Linked DNA regions of Homo sapiens: region 1 is linked to region 2. The links come from fine-mapping of genetic effects on gene expression. A gene starts in region 2. The other region holds a variant in brackets. All regions are shown on one strand. Distances are from middle to middle.

Region 1 (8,000 bases), 260 kb before region 2:
GTCATGATCATCAGCATAAGCAAGGGTGGAGTATCCTCTAAAATAATATTTTATTTCAACCTTAGGAAAATCATCATGAACTTCCAGGCATCTGGAGTGATTTCCAAAAGAAATATAGAAATGGAGAGGGTTCCATCTCTAGGTAGAGGCCCCTAGAGAGCAGACTGTTGATTTCCATTCTTTTGGATTGGTTATTGGTTCCTGTCCTGTCTGTTCCCCCCACTGTTAGCCATTCCTTCCAGTGGCCTTTCAATGTCTTCTTCTGATCTGCTATGGTCTGAACAAACCTTTTAACAAAACTTGCTAGAACTATGTATAAACAACAGAATCAGTCTATGGATAAGCACCTGTGGTGGCCTCCTTGAGTAAAATTTCTGAGTTTGATTATGTGGGATGTTTTTAGCTTTATCTTAGCTGCTAACAGGTCTTTTTGCTTCCTCCTTGAATCACGGTCATATTTTAGAATGATGAATTAGCGGGACAGTTAACACTGCAAATGTTTCCAAATAGTTTAAAATCTGTTTTGGCCCCAAAGGTGCATGGCCTGCCCATCGAAGTCTTTAAGGATAACTATTGCCAATTCTTTCAGATACACCAAAGATTTATTATCAGGCCCCAGTGATCCCTCACAATAATTTCTTTTCTGGCCAGCTCCCCAAAATGTCCTAACACACCAAAGTGCACTTTCTTTTTCTTTTCTTTTTTTTTTTGAGACAGAGTTTTGCTCTTGTCCAGCTGGAATGCAACAGCATGATCTCAGCTCACCGCAACCTCTGCCTCCCGGCTTCAAGCAATTCTCCTGCCTCAGCCTCCTGAGTAGCTGGGATTACAGGCACCAGCCACCACTCCTGGCTAATTTTTGTATTTTTAGTAGAGACGAGGTTTCACAATGTTGGCCAGGCCGATCTCGAACTCCTGACCTCAGGTGATTCACATGCCTCGGCCTCCCAGAGTGCTGGGATTATAGTCGTGAGCCCCTGCGCTCAGCCTCAAAGTGCACTTTCTTTGTGAACAACAACATCTACCTATATTACGTGTTTTAGATCCAACTATTCGGAGCAAATACAAAAAGAAAGTATGTACAAAATATTTTAAATATGTAAAATAAATAAATGTTCACTCGAACAGTATTTATTTGAACCCAAGCTCAATAATTTTTTATTCTTTATTTCCACAAATTTTGAACCCCCTTGTATCTATTATGATGTCCCCTCCCCTATTTGTAAATGACAACTGGCTGAACATCTTCATTCACATATTTGCCAACCCAAACAAAAAACTTACATGTTTGAATCTGGAATCCAGTGTGGCCCTGCTGGCGCCAGCCCTGCAGGTGAGGTGTCTTATGATTTGTTTGCTGGCTTCAGACTTTCCTGATCCCCTTTCTCCACTAAGGAAAACAGAGAGGAAAAACATAAGTTTGAAGGAACTTTGCTTCAAAGCTTGTTCCTTTGTTCCTTTGAAACTACTTTGAAGGAACAAGTAAAAAAATTAACTGGAGATATTTCTCAGACACAGAAATGAGGAGGGAATGGCACATCTACTTGCAATGAGTTTGTGGTCTCCGTTCACACTTCAATTTGATTCATTTGTCTGAAATACCCAGTATATGTTGACTGTGTCATGTCCCTGATGGTGTTTCAGATGCTGGCATTACAAATGAATATGACACAAGTTCTGCCATTCAGTATCTCACAGGGTAGAACCACCTAGTGTAGGTGAATTATGCCAGAAAGGTGTCAGGCTGAGAAGAAGACATAACCAACTTGACTCAGCTTAGCAAGTCAACATAAAGTGAGGCGATCCCGAGACAGCATGCTGTGTTGAGACATGCAGGCTCACACATGGCCTTGGGAAAACTGTTCATGCTTCATGGGCCTTACAGGAGAGACGTTACCTCTTCTGTGGAAAAGCTGTGACATCTTTCTGAGCATTCCTTCTCTGTTCTTTGAAATGAACATAAAGTGCCTAGCTACAAAAACTAAGGCAGTAAGGTCTTCAGATGTGGATCTGTCATTCCGCAGATCCTACTAAACCTGACCTGCTTAGGTTTCCTTTTCCGCTTGCTTTCAGTTCTGATGTTCTCTAGTTTGCATTTTTCTTTAATCTAGGAAAGATCACTGAACTTTTATTTATAAGGGCATCACTTTTAATACATCCCAGGCATACTTCATTAACTCACCCAATTTTTAAAAATGGTAAATATTATATTCCTGACACTATATGATATAGGATTGACATAAAATTCCCACAAAATAATTATTATTTCAAAGTGATGTGATCTACAATAAAGTTATTACTTCATCCAGATGAAAAATTCATAAAAACAGCCTTTACTTATTTGGTAACCAGAAAAACTTTTTAAAGCCCTTTTAGGAGAGCTTCCTTGGTTTTCTGCCTGGAAACATCTATTTTAACAAAGTTAATTAACAGTGTTTGCCAGAAAAGAAGTAAGTTGAAATTTAATTATTTGTTTAAAGTGTCGAGTCGTTAATGGATGCTTCCACTCACTTGTGCAGACTTTTGAACTACTGGGGCCTAAGAGTATCAACAAATGAGGTATTAAGTTAATATTAGAAAACAAAATGAAATTTTTTCTGGTCTGGTACTGAGTTTTGGGACATCCATTCCAGGACTACTTGCGTTTTGATTGCTAAATCTTAAATTACCCTTTGTAAGTGCTCGTTCTGGGACACAACTGACACTCAATAATGATCCGTTAACAACTTATTAAGTTGAATTTCAAATGGCTAATTTTATCATATTCGTAAAAATGGAGAAAGCATGTATCTTAGCCCACACAATCAAGGATGTGGCAAAGCTGTATGAAAGCACACACAATTTTGAAAGAAGAAAGAGAATCACTAAAACAGTAAGTCCTAGTAACCAGAGATTTGCTCTTCCATTCTGTATATCAGGACTAGCGATACCGAAAGGAGTTCTCCAGCTTGCTTCAGGCAGACAGTCAGGGAAGGGTCCCCCGAGAAGCTCCGACCCGCCCCACGAGTGCTTACGTCAGATGTTTTGTGCCGATAAGGGAACTTGCACAGGGGGCTTTGCCTAAACAAGCCTGCGGTGGAAGAGTCCGTTCCTTA[G/A]CACACGTGCAGCAAGGGAAATCAATCAATATGGAGCAGCTCGGCCTCAGCATGCGCACTGGAAGGACGGGGGGTGGAGCCGCCAGCAGTTTGCGCCCTAAGCTCTGGTGGTATTCAACTGAGAAGGGGGCACCAGGCACCCTGCTTCAGGACCCCTCTCTGCTGAGAGCTTCCCTTTCGCATAATAAATTCTACTCCACTTACTCTCTCGTGTCCGCACGCCTCATTTTTCCAGGTCGTGAGGCAAGAACCTGGACGTAGCCGAGCTAAGGAGCAAAATCCTGCATCAACACCTTCTTGAAACTTGAATGAAGAGGTATTTTTTCAAAATAAGGGGTTGGTACAGGGAATCATTAACTTTAAAAAATGACCCAAAGGAGGGCCGGGCGCGGTGGCTCACGCCTGTAATCCCAGCACTTTGAGAGGCTGTGGTGGGCGGATCACAAGGTCAGGAGATCGAGACCATCCTGGCTAACACGGTGAAACCTCGTCTCTACTAAAAATACAAAAAATTAGCCGGGCGTGATGGCGGGCGCCTGTAGTCCCAGCTATTCGGGAGGCTGAGGCAGGAGAATGACGTCAACCCGGGAGGCGGAGCTTGCAGTGAGCCCAGATCGCGCCACTGCACTCCAGCCTGGGCGACAGAGCGAGACTCAAGACTCCATATCAAAAAAAAAAAGACCCAAAGCAAAACTAGTTCTGCAGAATATATACTGGATAAAAAGTTCCATGAGCAAATACCTGTCAAAACTGTTGGGTTAAACTAAGATAAACGGGGTTCTTCATAAGAAAACTTGCTGGCCGCTGTGTGCCATCTCCCGGGCGGACTCCCAAAGCGCATGGGCCTGCTGCTCCTCCTTTTCTCCCCTTAGAGCCTTGCTCAGGACCCACGCTTTCAAAAACTGACCTATAACAGCTGCAATGATCATCCTAGAATTAAGTGGGAGCACTCAAAAGTTATGTAAATTCTAAAGAAATAAATAATACATAGAAATAATCTAGTCAAGGGTCTGGCAGCCAGTAAATTCTCAATAAACATTAGTTGTTATTGTCAACAGTGTTAAACTCTCCCTGTCTCACCAATTGACAGTGTTTTTTCTAAGCAACTTTTAAAAAGTTTTCCCTATTTATCAAAGGAAGACCAGGAAACTGGACAGACAAAGCAGATAAAAATAGGGTTGCCTGAGTCTAGAACGGGTGGAAGCCCCCATCTCTGCGCCTTTCTCATCCTTGAGTCCAGAATGAGTGGCCAGGTACAGTAGCTCACACCTGTAATCCCAGCACTTTGGCAGGCCGAGGCAGGTGGATCACCTGAGCTCAGGAGTTCGAGACCAGCCTGACCAACGTGGTGACACCCCCGACTCTACTAAAAATACAAAATTAGCCGGGCGTGGTGGCACATGCCTGTAATTCCAGCTACTCAGGAGGCTGAAGCAGGAGAATCACTTGAACCCAGGAGGCAGAGGTAGCGGTGAGCTGAGATTGTGCCATTGCACTCCAGCCTGGGCAACAAGAACGAAACTCCGTATCAAAAGAAAGAATGGGTGGAAGCCCCTGCCTTGGTGCCTTTCTCATCCTTGAGTCTAGAATGGGTTGGAGCCCCCACCTCAGTGCCTTTCTCATCCTCGTGTCTAGAATTGGTGAGAGCCCGTCTCAGCGTCTTTCTCTTCCTTTGAGTTTAGAATGGATGAGAGCCCCTGTCTCAGCATCTTTATCACCCTCGTGTCTAGAATGGGTGAGAGCCCCTGTCTCAGTGCCTTTCTCATCCTTGTGTCTAGAATGGATGAGAGCCCCTGTCTCAGAGCCTTTCTCATCCTCATGTCTAGAATGGGTGAGAGCCCCTGTCTCAGCGCCTTTCTCATCCTTGAGTTTAGAATGGGTTGGAGCCCCCGCCTCAGTGCCTTTCTCATCCTTGTGTCTAGAATGGGTGAGAGCCCGTGTCTCAGAGCCTTTCTCATCATTGAGTTTAGAATGGGTGGAAGCCCCTGCCTCGGTGCCTTTCTCATCCTTGTGTCTAGAATGGGTTGGAGCCCCCACCTTGACGCCCTTCTCATCCTTGTGTCTAGAATGGGTGAGAGCCCCTGTCTCGGCGTCTTTCTCATCCTTGAGCCTAGAATGGGCAGAAGCCCCTGCCTCAGTGCTTTTCTCATCCTTGAGTCTACAATGGGTGGAATTCCCTGCCTCAGCGCCTTTCTCATTTTTGAGTCTAGAATGGGTGGAATCCCATGCCTCAGTGCCTTTCTTATCCTAGAGTTTAGAATGTGTCGAAGCCCCTGCCTCAGCACCTTCCTCATCCTTGGGATGCATCTGAACCCAGCACGAAAACAACCGCTAGCATGCTGCTTTGAAAACTAGAAAACTAAAGTGTGCGCCCATCAGTCTGTCCCTCCACCCTCCATAGAATTTTTGATGAAATGCATATAAACATATAAGCTCTCATTTTAATATTTAAATAAGCCTTTTGAATTCTATCCAGGTTCTAACTTTATACCATTTTCATTTCACTTTGACTCGAGTTGTGTGCTACTGTACTTATCCGTTGAGTTCCAACCAGCACTACTGACAACAACTAAGGCGCTACCGTGAGTGAGTATTTATAGAGCTTTCCCTCCCTTGTAGAGGTTTGGCTGAATATAAAATATAGGTCTCTGATGCAGATTTTAACATTTAAATGTTTCTTTAATTTTCTATTAATTGGTGAGTTAAATCTAGCATTACATTTCAAATTCAAAAAATATTCTGGGCCAAATGCAGTGGCCCATGTCTGTAATCCCAGCACTTTGAGAGGCTGTGACAAGAGGATCGCTTGAGCCCAGGAGTTTGAGACCAGCCTGGGCAATATAGTGAGATCTCATCTCTACAAAAATTAAAAAATTAGCCAAGTGTGGTGGCATGTGCCTGTAGTCCCAGCTACTTGGGAGGCTGAGGTGGGAGGATCACTTGAGCCTTGGCTGCAGTGACTGGTGATCATGCCACTAAATTCCAGCCTGGGTGACAGAGCAAGACCCTGTCTCAAAAAAAAAAAAAAAGTTTAGGAAGTAGAGTACAGTGAATTGTGAGCAAAGGTAAATAACAAGAAACAGGCTGAGAAAACATACCTTTGGAAAGAAATAAAATGATATTTGGGGCAGCCCTGGATTTTGAAGAACAGTGGCTTAGGTTCCGTAATATTGGTAGTTTTTCTTTCTCCATGTTTTCTTAGGTTCAAAAGCAAAAACTTTTTATCTAAGCTTTAAATCTTCAAAAGGAAATGAGTTTCAGGTTAAGTTTATTAATATTGATCCAGCTACACTTGGGGCTACTCCTAACAGCCAAGATGTTTCTCCTTTGTAACGAGTCAAATGTACTTATTGCAAAGATATACTGGACCTCAAGGTGCTGAGAAAGTAAATAAAGGTAAACCATAGGAAATGAGTACATCTTTACTGCCAAGCCCCGTGGCAAACCTGAGCCTGGCAGACAAGGTTGAGGAGGACTCACCTGAGGATGAAACACTGAGGCCGCTGTTCCCGGAAGAGCTGGTGAAAGGCTCTCTCCACACAGGAGAAGAGGTGAGGAGGCAGCGAGGAACACAGCTTCCCTGAGGAGCTGAAATACAGCTGGGACACCTGGAAAACAGGGCAGCAGCAAGGGGAAAACCTCAGTGAAAAGGCGCCAGTATTCCTCATCCCATAATGAGAGTGACTTCTGTCCAAGATACAGAAGTGAATGAATCCCTAATTCTGAATCTCATTGGTATGTAAAAACATTTGTAAAATTACACCCTTCTCAGCACATTTTCAGCATGCATAATGACAAAATGGAGGCTTATACTTTATCCTTCATTACTTGGTCCACAGGCTTTAATTATTCTGCTGTCTTTAAGAAGAGCAACTCACAAAATATGTTCTTTAATAGATATCTGTGCAGTAAGCTGAAACTGTGGTAATTTACAACAAATACAATTTCTCTCAGCAGTATTTAATTTCAATACCATAAGATAGCCAAGGTTTTAAACTTGAATGTGAGAGGCAGTTGCAGCTGAAATGCATATAAGTTTACAAATTTCTCAGAAAAACAAAAATTAATTAATTTTAGAGAAACGGTGATTTATAATTATTGCCATAATGATTCATTTCCAGTAGTTTTAGTCCTTTTAAATTTCTAGTAAATTTTATTACTTTAGAATAAAAACTCAAGAGTAGGAAGACTTCTTAGTTGTGAAGAAATCAAAGTTATTTTTATTGTACAAAATAACTGGCCTGTATCTTCAAAGATGTCAAGGTCAGAAAAGTCAAAAGAAGACTGCAGAACTGGTCCATACTGAAGGAGAGTCAAGGGCATGGTGGTTCAAAATGCAACGTGCAGCGCTGGCCTGAATCTCTAGCTCTATGGGCATTACTGAGACAATGGGAAATCCTGAACGAGGTCTCTTGATTCAGTGACACCAGTGCATCAGTAATAATTTTCCCATTTTGATGACTGTAGGGAGGTTACACAGGAGAATACCTTTGTTTAAATACACAGTAAACATATTTAAGGTTGATGGGACCACATGCCAGAAAAGTATTTTAAAATGCTTGATGCTCAGGGATCTGCTATTAGTCTGATGGGCTTCTCTTTGTGGGCAAACTGACCTTTCTCTCTGGCTGCCCTTTACAGTTTTTCCTTCATTTCAACTTTGGTGAATCTGACAATTATGTGTCTTGGAGTTGCTCTTCTCAAGGAGTATCTTTGTGGCATTCTTTGTATTTCCAGAATTTGAATGTTGGCCTGACTCGCTATGTTGGGGAAGTTCTCCTGGATAATATCCTGAACAGTGTTTTCCAACTTGGTTCCATTCTCCTCGTCACTTTCAGGTACACCAGTCAGACATAGATTTGGTCTTTTCACATAGTCCCATATTTCTTGGAGGCTTTGTTCATT
Region 2 (17,276 bases):
CATGGAAGAGGAGACAAGGAGGTGAGGGTCGAAGGCCACGGGCATGGGCAATCGTTTCAAGGTATGACCTGCAAACAAGGAAATGGGGTGGTGGCCCGAGGGAAGAGAGAACAAGGGGGGACTTTTGCTTAATTGGAAGATGGATGGATTGGCCACATATTCACTCTGTTGGAAGCTGATGCAGGAGAGAAAGGGGAGAGCTGAAGGGAAATGCAAGCTTGCAGGAGGCAGAAGGAGACAGAATTGCAAGCGCACTGGCCTTGGACACACAGGAGGAAATTCAGGACTGCAGGTGAGAAGTGGGCAAAGAGGAATACATGCGCAGACACTCTGCAGATTTAATGGTGGGAGGGTAGGTTTGTAACTCCTCAGCCTGGGAGATTGGAGTTAGAAGAAGGGGTCTCTAGGCATGAGCAGTCGTGCCTACCGTAGAAACAAGACGAGGGTACAGGAGAGTGCTGCCTGCCTGGGTGAGATGTTTGATCATGATGTTAAATGAAATCAGTCTGCTTTTGCTCTGATGTCCTCCTTCAAGGGTCATCCAGCTCCTCTGGGGCAAGGACAGACATGCTGGAAAGGGGGGTTCCACCTTGGGTAGGTATTCGTCACTCGAGTGGAACAGAGGGAGGTGAGGGCAAGGAGTGAAGTGGCTTCAGCAATGGACTATGGGCGCTGGACCAGGCGGAGAGCAGGATATGGGAGAGTGAGGACATGGAGGGAGCAGCTTCTGGGTGTGTTAGTGCATTGCAGAAACACTGCAGTGAAAGTTCTTGAATGAGCGAACAGTGTGTGCGATAGCTAGAAAAGTGAGGAAAGCATTTTACTGGAGGTGGTGTTCATCAGCATGAGTGGCTTGAGGAAAAAAATGGGTTTTAACCTTGGTATCATAAAACATGTTTAATATGTGTGATCATTAATACTCAGTGTCAACTTGGTTGGATTGAAGGATGCAAAGTATTGTTCCTGGGTGTGTCTGCAAGGGTGATGTCAAAGGAGATTAACATTCAAGTCAGTGGACTGGGAGAGGCAGACCCACCCTCGATCTGGATGGACACCATCTGATCAGCTGCCAGTGCAGCTAGGATAAAAGCAGGCAGAGGAACATGGAAGAACCAGGCTGGCTGAGTCTTCCAGCCTACATCTTTCTCTCATGCTGGATGCTTCCTGCCCTTGAACATCAGACTCCAAGTTCTTCCGCTTTTGGACTCTTGGACCTTTGACCACAGACTAAAGGCTGCACTGTCAGCTTTCCTACTTTTGATATTTTGGGACTCTGACTGGCTTCCTTGCTCCTTAGCTTGCAGATGGCCTATTGTGGGACCTCACCTTGTGATTGTGTGAGTTAATTCTCCTTAATAAACTCCCCTTTATATATACATCTATCTTATTAGTTCTGCCCCTCAAGAAAGCCCTGACTAATACAACATATAAAGTAACAGATTTTCTGATACAATTCGTTCTTAGGTGTTGTAAATGAATTCTCAGCTCTGGAGAATATTCATTTTAAATAACTTTAACCTTCCTCCTGCTGCAAACAATGCTGCCCCAAACCCGTATGCTTAGAGAAGAGCTGAACCAGGAGAGAAATAGGTCAGGTGTAGTTATTGCAATGCTTCACCCCCAGAGGCACGTGAAGGGAACTCCACAGGTAGACCTCAAGCCTCCGCTTCAGTTCATTAAAACAAAAGTAGTTTCAAGTCTCACATGGCCTTAAAGTTCTGTGAGCCCATGACTCCCTTGAGTTCCATTTCTCATTTCTGCTTGCGCCTCAGCTGGGGCCTGGTCATGTTCATGTGTTACCTCTCAACAGGCATGGGGCTCTGAGACTGGCTCTCACTGCAGATCTGTCTAAAGCTACTTCTCAGCTACCAAGATACATGAAATGGCCACACTTTTTGCTGTGGTGTTCCTACACTTTCCTGCTATATCCTGCTTCCACAGTAAATTTTTACACTCTAGTTTTTAACCCTTCTCTAAAATAAAGTAAAAATGTTTTACAAAGTAACAGATATTATCATAAACTGGAGATAACAACTGTTAGATTAAGTTTCGACCTTGAAGCGTATAATTTTTTCACCTTAGATGATGAGTATTTTCCCAGGTGACTAACAGTTCCTTGCGAGCATTAGCTATTGGTCACCCAGCATCCCACCTGAAGGCTTCCTGTGATTCACTAGGAGCACATGGGATGCTAATGTTGCACATTTCAGAAGGTCCTGCTCCTGCCCTGGAATTCATCCACTTCCTGCATTGCTGTCTGGCTTGAAAGTGAACGTGCTATGGTGATAAATCTGGCTCAGAATGAAAGACAGATATGTGGTAGAAATGCAGGACAGGCGAAGAAGGAATGGAGTGTGACGAAGGCCGATGAACCTCGCCAGCAGATCAGCCCAATATGGGAGACAACAATTTGGGAAAATCTTACGCATCAGGAACAACCATTAAACCATGAATTATGATCCTTATCAATAAACCCTTAGGATACCATGAGGGCATTCACTCTTTTTTTTTTTTTTTTTTTTTGAGTTGGGGTTTTGCTCTTGTCACCCAGGCTGGAGTGCAATGGCGCGATCTCAGCTCACCGCAAGCTCCGCCTCCCGGGTTCAAGCAATTCTCCTGCCTCAACCTCCCAAGTAGCTGGGATTACAGGCTCCCACCACCACACCCAGCAAAATTTTGTATTTTTAGTAGAGACAGGGTTTCACTATGTTGGCCAGACTGGTCTTAAACTCCTGACCTCAGGTGATCCGCCTGCTTTGGCCTCCCAATGTTCTGGGATTACAAGCGTGAGCCATCACGCCCGGCCTTCTTCTATATTTTGTTCATCCTTCCAAGATATAGCTCAAGATGCATTTTTTTCATAAAACACCCTTCACTAGTTCAGCACAGAATGCAGTATAATTTCTGAACTCCTTAACACATCGCACCATTTCTCCAGTAAAGTTAGCATTTCATAATATTCATGCTTCCTTTCCATTTTATAGACTGTCACACTCAAAGCTTAGAAAGCAGTCAGATCTTTAGTAAGTAGTTGCTAATTACTTTCAGAAATGCATCAGGAATGTTTAAATTCATTAATTTTAGATTTCATCTCTTATACTAGCATGCTAAAAGAAATATCTCACAGGCTCCAATTGACATCACCAATTTTCTGAAATGTCTACAATTTTCCGAAATTCTACAATCAAATAATTCAACTAAAACAGAACAAAAGGCAGGAAAGGGCAGACTCATATTGTGTTTGGTGACCAACTGCTCCCTGAATCTCTCACGTCCATGTCACTGTCCCTTTGTGCTTCCACCCATGCTCCATGGCTGCCCTCCACCAGGTGTGTTCAATGTGTCTAATGAGCATCCAGGTTCCTTGTAGGAAAGATGCAGAGTTTTTCCTCTGCAGAGGCACAGCAAGGAAAATAATGACATTCTGCTAGTGCAGTAAAACACGAGAGGCAATACAAAAACCAGTCAGAGTATTGCCCTGTGTCTATTTCTCCAAGAAAATAACCCCAAGAGTTAACAGATTAAAGCAGAAGACTATTCTCAAAATTCTTAAATACGCTGCATGCCTCTAATTCTTATTAGTTAAAGAGCTAATCTGCAAACTTACGAGATGACCAGTGAATCCTTTTGGGAATTGAAATTGTTCTGCAACATGAAAGCATGACATTCTTGGCAATGCTTAAGAGTAAGGCATTTTTATTTCCATTAATCATAGTTTTAATTCCTGTATACATTCTCTACCAAAAATAAGAGAAAGGTAAATATTTTCACCTTCTCAATCATCATTATTTTTTTAGTCTCCTTTAGTGCAAAGCTCAAGATTCATTCAACACATGTGTTCCCTTAATATGCTGCTTCAATTTAACATTGTGATGTCCTTTGGCAGCAAAACCTTAAGCTTAAAAGAAAACCATTTTCTGCAAATGTCATCTGTCACTTTAAGATCATGATATATATGTACAGAAGTTTTCAGAAGTGCTGCAGGGGACAAAAATGTATATCCAGCAAGCCATTTTTGGATAAATATGTCTTCCTCTTCATTATTACCATCCAGAATTGGTTTAGATGGAAGTATTCTCTAGCTCAGAAAATTCTGCCAAAATTTCAGACGCTAAAGAAACCCTTGATAAGCCCAAAAGAGAACCTGGTGACAAACTAAATTTCACCATATGAACATCAGTGGAGAGCATTTGGTACAGAGTCCCTGGAGTCCCTAAGCACCGCAAGGTGAATGATACAAGGACAAAAGTTTACAGTCAAGGATAACCCTAAAGATCACACTTACAAAAAGCATTGAATAGAGGCTTAAGCAGTAAAACTTGAGACTAAAATACTAGCTAAATGACCTCAGCCATATATTAATAAACTTAGTTTTTATGTACTTTATTAACATGTGCCAATGAGCAAAAATATGCTTTTGTAATTTCTTTCCATGTGTTTCTGGTGTTTTTTTTTTTTTCTGGTTGCTGTGTCTATGAATCATTTTTTTTAAAAAGCTGAAGTTTTAAAGATCTCTGTGCTATTAGCATTTGGATCACACTGGAATTATTTCACAATCTAAAATTAAAAGGAAATATATCCAGCCTGTAAAATATTCTTCTAAGTCACCAGTCTATGTCACTCATCTGAATGTGGTATACCAGGAGAACTGCCTTAATTTTGGCATCTGCACAAAATAATACTTCAACAAGACAAATAACCACATGAGCAAGATATCAAGCTTACTTACAGCACTTGATAAAATGATAGTGAGACATCTTTCCATCTCAGACAGGAATCTTGCTACGGGTTCCAGCATTCTCTTCTGTCACAACTGTCGTTCCCAGGAAATGCATTACTTAAAGCCCTTACTCAGGTAACAGTTTACCTCAGGATGCACTATTGCATGGAGGCTCTGTTCCATGATCCTGCAAAAAGCTTCAAACTCATTCTCATTCGGCAGCTGGAGTTAAGATAAGCCTCTCCCCGGTGGGTCTTGAGGCACCACTGGTGCACGTGCTATTGTAGCACCCTTGATTGACACAGCCCCGAGTACCACAATCCCGGGAATAGTCAGCTCTAATTGGTGTTCACATGCAGCCACATTCTGCTGCACGGAGGTGTGCTGCAGTGCGGCTCTCCCGGTCCTGCCTGTTAATGGCTTTTCAATAGCTTTCAAATGGCAGCAAACTAAGCTGATGAGTGGGCTGGAGAGAAGCCACGGATAGAAGGATCCTAAATCTTCTTCGTGCACACTGTCCATCAGCCACATATGACCAGATTCTTAGCTGGTAGTAAAGCGGATTATTTTTAGTTGCCACCAGTTGCTGTGTGTGAATAGGAAATTGATAGCAGGAGCTTAAAATAGCCACCTCTTAGAATCAGAGATCTTTGATCTGTCCTTAGTAATGAAAAACTTGCATTATATTTCAAAACACATCTTTCTGCTTTTCTGAGCAGAATGTAAAACTTAAATTATCCACAAAAAGCTTTTGGTTTGCATAGCTTTAAAATTTAGGATTCTCCTACCTCTGCAGACTGCAATGAATTTAACTGTACAACCCAACTGGATGAAGTAAATCTGACTGAATTGGAATCAGAAAGAAATATATGGTCTGCTAGGGTTTATTGTTATAAAAGTGAATATCATACTCATAATGAAATAGCCATGGTAGCAAACCAAAAGGTTATATTTTAAGTTGTTTACAAATTCAAAGTGATACATTTTTTTTGCAAATTGATACATTTTTATGATGATCTTCTCCAAAGACAAGTTGACATAGTCTAGAATTTATGTTTCAGGTTTGAGGTTATAGGAAAGGTAAACATGAACAATATGTTAAGTGCACCCATCCTTCTGTGGCAGTAACATAATTTTGTATTCCTTACTGAACAAAACTCAAAGAGCAGTGCTTTTATTAAACTAGAAGATTATGAAATTCAAATCTATACAACAAGGGGTCATGACTATTACATTTTCACTGAATAATATTCTAACACATTTTAGTAGCGTGATGTAAAATAATAAGTTGAAGATTTCGCACAGAACAGCCTGATGTCAAATCCAGCTTCTACCACTTACCAGAGTATCAATGTAAACACATTATTTAACCTGCTAAAGCCTCAGTTTCCTCATCTATGCATGTGAAATATAATTCCTAATCTTTATTCTGAAGGTTAGAAATAATGCACATAAAATTTCTGGTTTCTGTTGTTGGTGTTCATTGAAAAGTTGTCATTAACATTAACAAGGAAAAAAACTTATGTATGTACCAAATGATGATTATGGACGCTTTAACTTGGCTTTTCCAAAAATTAGAATGAGGATTTGCAGCCTTCATCAGGAATGCTGATTCCTCATTTATTCGTTGATTCCACAATTAATTATTGAGAGTCACTGTCACAAAAGTCACCATTTTGGGTGCTTTTCAGGAATAAAATATGTCTAAAACAGAGCCTTTATATACCAGGAATCTATAATGTATTTTTAAAGGGTTTCTTGGATGTTTTGTAATGTTTCAATAAAACTGTAAGACACAACTATATCTGTTTCCAACACGGGAAGTAAAGCTCTCTCCTCTTTAAATCAATACAAATCTTTACATGTGCATAAAATAACTGTGAATTTATGTGAATGTTATCTAATGTATCTTCGGGTAAGGTTGTATCCATGTAGATGTCCCTACCCCCTTCTCTTAATACAATGCCGGATAAATAGTATGTTGCCTATATACCTTCCTTAAATGTCTGAATGTCTTAATTTTCTGCAAATTGCATGCCTCTGCATGTATACAAACTCAGCAAACATCTTAAGACAATTGAGTTTAATGATACCATTCACTCTTTAAACTGAAAAAAAGCATAACACTCAGAGGGGCATGTTGTGCACTTGACAAAGAAAATATGTTATTAAAAATATAATTGATTTGAGCCCTACTTTTTTCAATAACTTAAGGCATTTCTTATAAGAACTTTAACCAAGGTACCCCGTGAGAATTAACATCTCATCTCCAGGGGCTCATTATCAAATGTGTTTATTTTTCATCGACTCATGTATTCCATAAACATTTGGCAACTCTTTGTGCTATAAGAGAAACTTGACTCCCTGACCTCAAAGTGCTTATCGTCAGATGAAATAGAGACAATCAAGATAGCACAGTGTTGTGTGCTAGAAACTGTAAGACTACAAATGTAGACCTCTAAAACAACAAGAGCCAACATCTAATCCACTTTGAGGAGTTGAAGGAGGATACACTGAGAAATGTATTCACAGATTTCTTAAACTACTTAGAATGTGCTTTCTATGTATAAACTGTATCTACATATAATTTCCCCAGATTAAGAAGCCCTTTTATCTTTTTGTCTTTGAAACCACATACTCATGCTCTAAACATTGGTAGAACTATGTTTAAACCTATTTACATATTTCATCACTACAAAACAAAAATTAATTTCTAATGCAGGCATTAATACTGAGGAAAATAATTTTGGTTCCATTAACTTTACTTCCTTCATAAAATTTTTTAAAAATGGTAACTTGAAGTTGATTAAAATTTCCTCCTCTATATCCATCCCTGAGAAACTCAACTCACTGTTGGGTGGTCAGAACAATAATTTCAGGACTCCTTCAATCATATATATATATAATATATAATATATATATTATATACAATATATATTTTTATATATATTATATATAGCTATATATAATATATATAATATACATATATACATAAAATATACATATATACATGTATAATATACATATATATATATACACACACATATATATTTTTCTTTTCTTTTATTTTCTCTTTTGAGATGGAGTTTCTCTCTGTCACCCAGGCTGCAGTGCAATGGCGCGATCTTGGCTCACTGCAACCCTCTGCCTCCCGGTTTCAAGCAATTCTCCTGTTTCAGCCTCCCAAGTAGCTGGAATTACAGGCACCCACTACCATGCCCAGCTAATTTTTGTAGTTTTAGTAGACATGAGATTTCACCATGTTAGTCAGGCTGGTCAGGCTTGACCTCAGGTGAGCCACCTGCCTTGGCTTCCCAAAGTGCTGGGATTACAGGCATGAGCCACCATGCCCGGCTAAATCTTATATTTTAAATATGGTATCAGAGTTGATGACAGTAGCAAGAAATGACCAAGGCTAAATTAAATATATGGTTAGCAATTTATCTATTTTGCAGAATATGGTCATTAAGTACAAAATTAAATCCATGCGTTCGAAAGAGGGTATTGTTTTGCATTTCCAGAAAATTTTCAAACGCATAAAGCACAATTATTTTATTATTTTTCAGTATTATTACAATGAACTATTGTTCTTTCCAAATACGAATGCATAATATTTCAAACTCATTTTTGAATAATCAAGAAACCCCTTTTTCTCTTTTATACACCATACAGCTGCTCATTATTCACACTATTTCTGATATGAACACATGATTTTTTTTCTCTTAAATGTTAGCATTATTATACACCAGATTTTTTCAAATAAGGCTAAATTATTTCCCAGCCAAAAACAAAAAAAGAAACTGCAATGATTCTAATGAGAGATAAGCATTCAAAAGTTAGAAATTGCTTAGTAAATATCTTTTAAAATGGGATACATGAGACACAGCTCCAAAAAGGCCCCAGGTGAGATACTACTTAATGTTTTCATTTAAAACCTATTTGGACAATGTAAAACATGTAGTTTCATAATGCCAGTCTGCTGACAGATAATTCCTAATCTAATAGTGCCTGCATTGACATGCTTTATTAAATGAAGAAATTAAAACTAAAGTTTGCAAACATCACCAATTTGGGAAAGGTACGTATTAACAGTAGGTCATGACAAAAATTCTAAATGAAGATATAAATCACACACAACAGTTTTTTGTTATGCAAATTTAAGCTCTGTGATGGGGCATCATTGCCTCTGCCCTGTGAATAGGTTGGGGCTTATAAATATTAGCCTTTGATGAAGTAAATTACACACATTTAGAGACCTTGAGCCACAGGTGTCTCACACACAATGGCTGACAGCTAAATTTATAATTTCCTCTATCACAAATATTGACTGCTTCTGGGTGAATGGAGTCAAGACCTCTCCTGGGAACATAACTCCGGTCTAATAACTTAGGGTCCTTTGAGGCTGAAGCCTACAGAGGAGAAAATATCTGAGTTGTCAAAAAATAAGGCATAAATACACTCAGCTCTTGCTATAGAATCAGCCTCTGGTCAACCCCTGGTGCCTCAGGACCAGGATCAAGCCTACCTTGAATGACTGAACATCCTTGACTCTCTCATAAAGTCCCTGATCTCAGTCTAGTGACTGTGGAGGTTGTTCCTGATTTTGGCCTGCCTGTGAAACCACTAGCTCTCGGATTCAGGACTCCACAGGGCTGTGTGTTCACTTCAGCTTCACGTAGTCTCACATTTCTCCAACCAGAACAAACGGACATTCAAGTTAGATGTGGGCAATTGTGAAGTAAATGAGAAGAAATTTACAATACAGACTTGCACAGTTGGAAAGAAGTAGGGGTTAATAGGAACTGCCCTCTCCATGTCAGAGGGCAGTGAGGGCTAACCCAGCTGAGCCCTGCTTTAGTGACTAAAAGTGAATTTGTCATATAACGGCTAGAAAATATCCCTGGTTATTCAAATACTTTCATAGAGTACTGATGTAGAAAAGAAATGCAATTTTAAAAACTGCTTCAAAAAGACTGAAAATTACTCTCTGTAATACAATATAGATTAATATAATAGCAAATACATGCATGTGCATTGATATGGATATATGAAGATACACACACACACACACACACACACACACACACACACACACACTCAGGCTATATGGGATGTTCTAATTGCTCCTTAAGGGCATTTGGCCACCCACTTCCTTTGGTGATTTTTTTCCCTAATCAAAATGAAATGTTTTAAATTCTAGTGAGGACCAGTTAAACTGGGTATCTAAAGCAGGACATTTGTAAAGCATTTGTAAGGTTTTTCACTTGAATCCGAACAACCACTTTGAAATCTTTCCAGCATATGCGTTACAACTATCTAGGAAGACTTTTCCATTTCAGGTGTTTGACCTTGGACAAAAGTTTGCATATCTTAATGGTGAATAAGAAACAGACCGTTTTGTTTTATGTCTGTATGACTCTACCTAGGTTTATGTGCACATGTGTGATATGGATGAATATGAGCACATGAATAATTAAGTATTCTTTGCCTTGTTCTTCAATCAGTTTGAGGGAATAAATAGTATACTGCAACCAGTTACCAGGAATAGGCAGATAAAAAAAAATTTATTGATGACGAAGCAAGTTTAGCGATTACTGTTGGCCTAAATAAGACAGCTGGGACACCAGGCTGAAATGTTTGAACAGATCTCTATACATTTGTCATTTAGAAGACAATATCTGAAAGTTTTTTGATGATCTAAAAGATATTCTTAATTTTCCCAAAAAGGATGAAAGGAATTGTGAGGCAATTAAATAAGAAGCCTCTCCTTCATACTTTTCCCATTGATATACATGGATTTTTTAAACAAAATATGCCTCTTTAGTTGAATCATGCTCTTATTTACAATTTAATCACACTAAGTTACCTATTCAAATTCCATGCATTCTTCAAATTTACTTCAAGCCCATTTAATCTACAAACTGTTCTTGATTTTTTTATTGCTTAAATTATTCCTGACCTTCTCTAAAGCTTATATTCATTTTTTTCATGTACCAGTCAATCCAGCATTTATAATGCAATGCTTTGCATTTTTCTTAACTAGTTATCATAGGGAAGGCTCTTCCTAGGTAGGTAACTCGTTATTTGAGTCTCAGACCTTCTACTTTTCCTATTTCCTATGAAGTCCAAAACATTAGTGAACATTCAGAGATCAACAAAGGGAGAGCCAGAGAATTAGAATTGCTCTAAAGCATTTTCTGGTGCATGACATATAATGTCTTGAGGAATATTTTATTAAAGGCAGGATTATTGAACACTTAAGTAAACATAACTTACCATACATGACAGGAGAAGAAGAAAGAAATGAAGTGGAGTATAGCCCCTTCTTCATTCAAGCATGTAGGTACAAGTAGACTGAGTGTATATTGTTTTTCAATATCCCCCATGAAGGCGCCATTAAAACGGATCATAGGGAGATCTGGCTGCAAGTTTGACTTTCTTCTTCTAAATGAATTCCCTTGTTGCTAATTTTCTTTGAGTGACAATGGATACAATATAGTCACTAGAGAGGTTCCCAAAATTTAACAATATTTTAAGGTGTTCTAGAAAAAGAATGTACACTGAAATATCCAAATTCACAAATGACATTAAATTATTTCTCCAAACTGAAGTCTCAGGCCTTTTGGATAAGTTTAAGTAGCCCTCATTGTTACGATATTGTTCTCCATAAATATTTTCTCCTATCTGCACAGTTTGGGCTGTCAGAGGAAAGAGCATTGGCAGCCTTGGTTAAATGGTGATTACATAAAAGCATACCTTGGAAGCTGGACGTCGTGTGTGTAGCTCTGAAGCAATTTGGAGAATTACCTCCCAGGCCCATGGGCTTATATTTCAGGGTGATAAGCCTGGAGACTTTCTCTTTTCTTCTCCAAGAGAAAATTTGTTTCCTTTTCTCTCTCTCACTCTTTCTCTCAAATGGGCATATGTGCAGCTTATAAAAGCTTAGAGTCCTTGAACTCTTTGGTTCCTCTCCTGTGTTACAATTCCACTGCCCTTGCAGGATGATATCAGGCTTTCCGTCCATTGCTTTTTGAATAGTGGGGCTTTGGAAACCAGTGCCAGGATGCTCTGTGAGTGTGGTCCGTGCTCTGATCCATGTCTCTGATTCATGATCCACGACTTCATGTTTCCCATCAGAATCTCTCTTAGCCTATTTTGGCCTCTCCTCTTACCTCCTCTTCCTCTCGTCCATCCCCCACCATCCCTCTCTTTTCCATCCCCCACCAACATCTGCCTTCCCCCCTCCTCCTTTTCTCTTCCTCCTCTCCCTGTCTCTCTCTCCATACTTCACACTCCCATAAATAACTGGAAGGACTTCTCAGAGTAAAGCAACAGACACAGATAAATTCTGGCCACAGTGCATGAGGCTAATGAAACCGTAGAAGACTGGGACATCCTTTCCCTGACCAAGGCTCCTCTAGTGGGTTGTCCCTCCTTACTTCTATTTCAGTAAACTTCCTTGGATATGAATCCTGTATCTGTCACTCCCTAAAGGTCAGGTCACCTGGTTGAGGTTCAAATTCCTGTGATAAGAAATGGCAGCTGTAATGCCAAGCGCCCAGGGTTCTTCTGTACAAGCTAGGTGCTCAACAAGTACAATTCCAACCATCACGATGTGACTATTTCACACACCCCTGATGTTGTATTGATCTAATGCTATCTTTATATTCATGAAAATATTTATTATGTGATTTGCCTTGAAGACATCACTGCCTTTCCTAGAGTCTTGCAGGTATCAATGACTAGTAGAAACCCCTTCACAGTAATTATGCCATGTTTACCCATGAACCAGGTACTAAACAAGTAAACTTTATACAGTATCCTCCCAATCTGTGGGGGACACTTTCCAAGATCCCCAGTGGATGCCTGAAACCACAGATAATATGGAGCCCTATATACACTGTTTTTTTTTCTATACATTTCTATACTATTCCTATGATAAAGTTTAGTTTATAAATTAGGCACAGTCTAATTTAGAGATTAAGAGCAACAATGATAAAACAGGACAATTATAGCAAAATACTATAATAAAAGTTAGGTGAATGTGCTGTCTCTCATTGTCTCTCTCTCACAATATCTTACTGTACTGTACTCACTCTTCTTCTTGTGATGATGTGAGATGATAAAATGCCTACTGATGCCTGATGTGAGGGGAATGACGTAGGCATTGGTATGGAGCAGGCTACTATTGACCTAACACCGCAGCCAAGAGAGGATCATCTGCTTCAGATGGCCCAGGATCACTGAGCCACGACAATGTCGATGACTGGATGTCAGGAGTAGACGACGTGGATGATTAACGAGCAGGAAGCATGTAGTGCTTATACAATGGACAAAAGGATGATTCATGTCCAGAAAGAAATGAAGCTGGATGGCATGAGACTTCATCATGTTACTCCATGCATGGAACAGCATGCAATTTAAAATTAATGAATTTCTAGAAATAGAATACAAATATTAAATGGAAATTTCTAGATATTTCCATTTAATATTTCAGACTGCAGTTGGCGGTGGTTAACTGAAACTGCAGAGAGCAAAACGGCAAATAAGTGGGGGGACTACCATAGAATTCTATCAGCCCTGGAAGTCTTTGTTGAGCACTCAACATGCAACAGTCATGAATCAGACCTAGACCCTACCCTGTGGAGCTTACAAAGATTATACACTGGGAAACAGAATTACAGAGACTACACTAGAAAATGCATGGCATTATGGAGCAGGCACCCGAAGCTTGAGGGTTTGCAGTGTGTTTCTGAAGATGTGGTGCCTAGCACACACCAGAGGATGAGTAGGAAGAGATTAGGCAAAGCAGGTGGGCAGAAGAGAGGTGTGTGGTATCTTCATGACATGTTCAAGAAATAAACAGAAATGTTTGGCAAGGCTAAAGGATAGTACCTGGCACAGCCAGCTGAGGGGTGAGTTAGAGAGGTAAGTAGAGGCCAGGCTGCGGGGTGGGGATGGGAGGCTCTGTTCCTTCTCATGAGTCATATAGAGACAAGGAAGCTTTTAATGCAGAGGAGTGGGATGTTTAGATCTGAAATGCATAAATATCATAGGAAATTATTGGAGCAGGAGAAATAAAGAGGATAGTGTGTTTGGGAAGTGGAGGCCACTCAAGGCCCCCAAGGGCGAGGAACTGGGGACAGAGCAGAGGCAGTGACAAGTGGGAAGTGGACAGCACATCCCATCATCGACCAAAAGGTGAGTCCTCCTCTTCCTGTCTTGAAATCTCCATCCCTATCTCTGCTTCCTTCTTTCCACAGTTTCCTCATAAAGGCGGACTTGATCTGACCCAATGAAATATTTCCTTAATTTATCTAATGTTGCCAATACTGGAAACCTCTCATCCCTAGAAGCCCAAAATCCAGAAGTTCCACCCACAGACTTTGCATCAAGAGAATGAGTCTGGGATGCCTGAAAACAGTAACATGAATGCATGCTCTTAGTACGGTTCATCCCTGCTTCCTCTCTTCTTCAGTGTGGCTTCAACATCAAACATCAGAGCAGCCCTAAAACTCAGGTAGTCAAAAAATAAATACGTTAGTGTTATTCCCTTTAGCATTTCCAGAATAAATATTCAGATTTATTATTCAAAAAGTAAGAAAGTTATAAATAAGCTTCTAAGTGAATATTTCTAGGAAATGACCTCCATTTTTTAAGGCTTCAACTTATATAGCAAACAATTAAAAAGTGCTTATTATGTGGTAAGCATTATTCTAATATCTTCATAGGCATCGATTCATTTAAGAATCAGAACAATGTAGTGGGTACTAATACTTTTTTAACAGATGAGGAAATTGAGGCACAAAGACTAAGCAAGATGTCCAAGATCATTCAGCCATAAAGGAGCATGACTCTGTTGACCAAGTCATTCAGGCTACAGAGTCCACCATACCTTTCATCATGGGGCAATACCCCTCCTGCTAGGTGGTTTAGGCTTAGGTTTCCAGTATGCCATTTGCCTTCAACTCCTAGCACAGGCCTTTCTTCTGTCTGTCACATTTTTTCTACCTTCCTCACCGCGCATCGTCCCTTGCCTGATGAACTTCAACCCTACATGTTGGTGTTGTGTATATAGGGAGAGAGAGGGAGAGGGGAGGACACACATAGGAGAGACATCTGGAGAGGAGAAGGTGGAGAAGGGAAGGGGTTGTGTAAAATGAGTAGAAAATAAGTGTTCAAGGGTCACAGCGGGCAAACTGCCTCCCGATCAGTCCCTTCCCCTTTCTTCTTGGCCAGGTTAGCTGCACTGATGTATCGCTGTGATACCTCCTGATGCTACATCCTATTACTGCTAATTTACATCCTGCGTGGGCTTTCTCTCAAAATGCTGACATGATGCTGCTACATTGATGTTTACTTTTACACCCTCGAGTATCTATCAAGGCAGACATTTCAACATACAGACCCAGTCAACCAAAAGTGTCAAGAGAAGGAAAGTGTCAAGAAAAGATACAGATCGGAAGTAAGATTTTATCAAGGGAAGAGGTATATATGTTTATATTTGAAATTTAAGAGTATAGCAGGGAACCGAATTTTAGAGTCTCGTGAAGTAGCTAAGCTGTAGCAAATTTAGTAGACATTTAATAATTTTTTAACATATCATGAATACTGGCAATTACATCTAAGGTGCTAATATGATAAGAATTATCTCCAGACCACAGAAGATATTGATATACATCTCTAAAGCCAAATATGTAAGTGTTAGTTGAGTGGATTAAGGTAAGTTGTAGTGCGATGGTTGTGGAGAAGTATCACCAAAATAAAAGTCTTACATGAATCTGATGGGGGATATTTTGAGAGTGTCAAATTTATGACTCTGTTTATTTACATAAAATCCAAAAACAGGAAAAAATTATGATAATAGAAATCAGGCAAATGGGCTATTGATAGGAAAAGGGCTCTAGGGAACTTTCTAGAACAAATGGAAATGTTTCATATTTTGATCTCGTGGTGGTTGCACACGTATAAATATAGAGAGATACATTAAGATTGGTTGAATTGTACATGTAGTATATATGTGTTTTACTGCATGCAAATTATAATCTATTGTTTAAGTGTTGTAAATAGTGACAGAGTTCCTAACATAGCAGCAACAGACACAGTGAGAAAAGGATTTCTAAGGGTGTAAAACTAAGGTAACTCAGAAGCATTGGTTCATTCTACATTCACTCATTCAACAACTATTGACTGACAGGCTACTGTACTTTTGCATATGGATACAAATAAGGGGCAGTCACTGCCCTTAAAGTGATTTCCCAGCACAGCAAATCAGCCACTATAACACAGTGTGGAAAATGCAAACGTAAGCTTAGACAAAGCAAGATGGAGGCATGGAAGAGGTGGTGGCTGGCCCAGGCAATGGCTCCTTCATACCATATACAATGTCCTCTGTGAGGTGCTCCTGTCTGTCTCTACAGGCTCAACTCTAGCAGCTTCTCATCTGCAATGCAAATGTTCTAGGACAGCCACTGCCACCACAGTCTTAATGCACAATGCCTTGCAGGAGGTGTCTCCTGCTGGGAAGTCTTTTCTCCTCTTTTTTGCAGGTGCTCTTCTGTCCTGAATTACATGCATCTCTTCCATAGAATCTTGGGAGAGAGTCTGTAGTTACTCAAAGGGATCCCTGACCTGAAAAATGAAGACCACTCTTGCAGCAGATGGGGAGTGGATAGCAGATTTTTAACAGAGGAGTTAAATCGTGATGCTCTGTGAAGAACAGATTTGAGGGAGACAAGATGGACAGCAAGGAAACTTATTTAAAAAGCTCCTATAATAGTCCAGGGGAGAGAGCATGAGGGCTTGAAATTGAGTCATGGTAGTGAAGACAGAGCAGACTGGGTAAATTCTCAGGAAGCAATAGCTTGAAGACTGGCAGGATTGGGAAGTGAGAGAGAAGACCAGCTTTCTAGGTGCTTGGGTGTTTGGTGAGGCCATCTGCCTATCTGGTGAGGGAAAGGAGAGTGGAGGAAGAAGAAGCAGAGTGGAAAAGGAAGGGGATGGTGTAAGGGAAAGACAATCGATTATCTGGGTATGATATATCTAGGAAACATCAATAGAATAAATAAGTACATCTATTGGGTACTCAGTAAGTCTTGTCCTTGGCTCCCTGTAAAACCATCCCTTGTTATGTGTGCAGGGCTTCTGCTATGCACAGCGTTTGCTGGTATTAGAGAAAACACAAGATGGACTGAACATGGATCCTAGTCTCTATTTATTTCTTCTTTATTTTCCTTTAGTAATTTTGTTTATGGAGACTGTACTATCAGGCAGGCACTAGGCCCTGAGAGACAACCATGGCACAGATGAAAGCCCGTACCTGTGAAGAGCTTACCATTTCAATGACATTATTTAGGCATTTACAACAACAGGTTGTTCAGTGCTATAGTGAGGAGGAGTAAAACTACTCAGGTATACACAGAAAAGCCTCTGCCCAACTGCTAGGGATCAAATAAGATTGGCTGAAATGAGCTATCATAGCTGAAATCTGCAGAATGCATAGAAGGAATGAGGGAATGAGGGCGTATGAAAGAGTGATGCAGTCCTGTGGTTTTAA

Evidence for each region.
Region 1: its variant is fine-mapped to the expression of MYO16 in testis (GTEx, PIP above 0.99).

The regions. Positions count from the first base shown.
Region 1 is chr13:108,881,762-108,889,761 of GRCh38, reverse strand. It overlaps MYO16 (myosin XVI), which reads right to left. Exons shown (of 35, transcript NM_001198950.3): 13 at 6,576-6,703; 14 at 1,285-1,390. Among named protein-coding and RNA genes, the nearest start is that of MYO16-AS2, 220 kb to the left of the region's middle. The variant G/A (reference allele first, on the strand shown) is at 3,096.
Region 2 is chr13:108,617,326-108,634,601 of GRCh38, reverse strand. MYO16 (myosin XVI) reads right to left here and starts at 4,991. Exons shown (of 35, transcript NM_001198950.3): 1 at 4,730-4,991. The coding sequence starts at 4,757. RefSeq lists an enhancer at 15,982-16,483.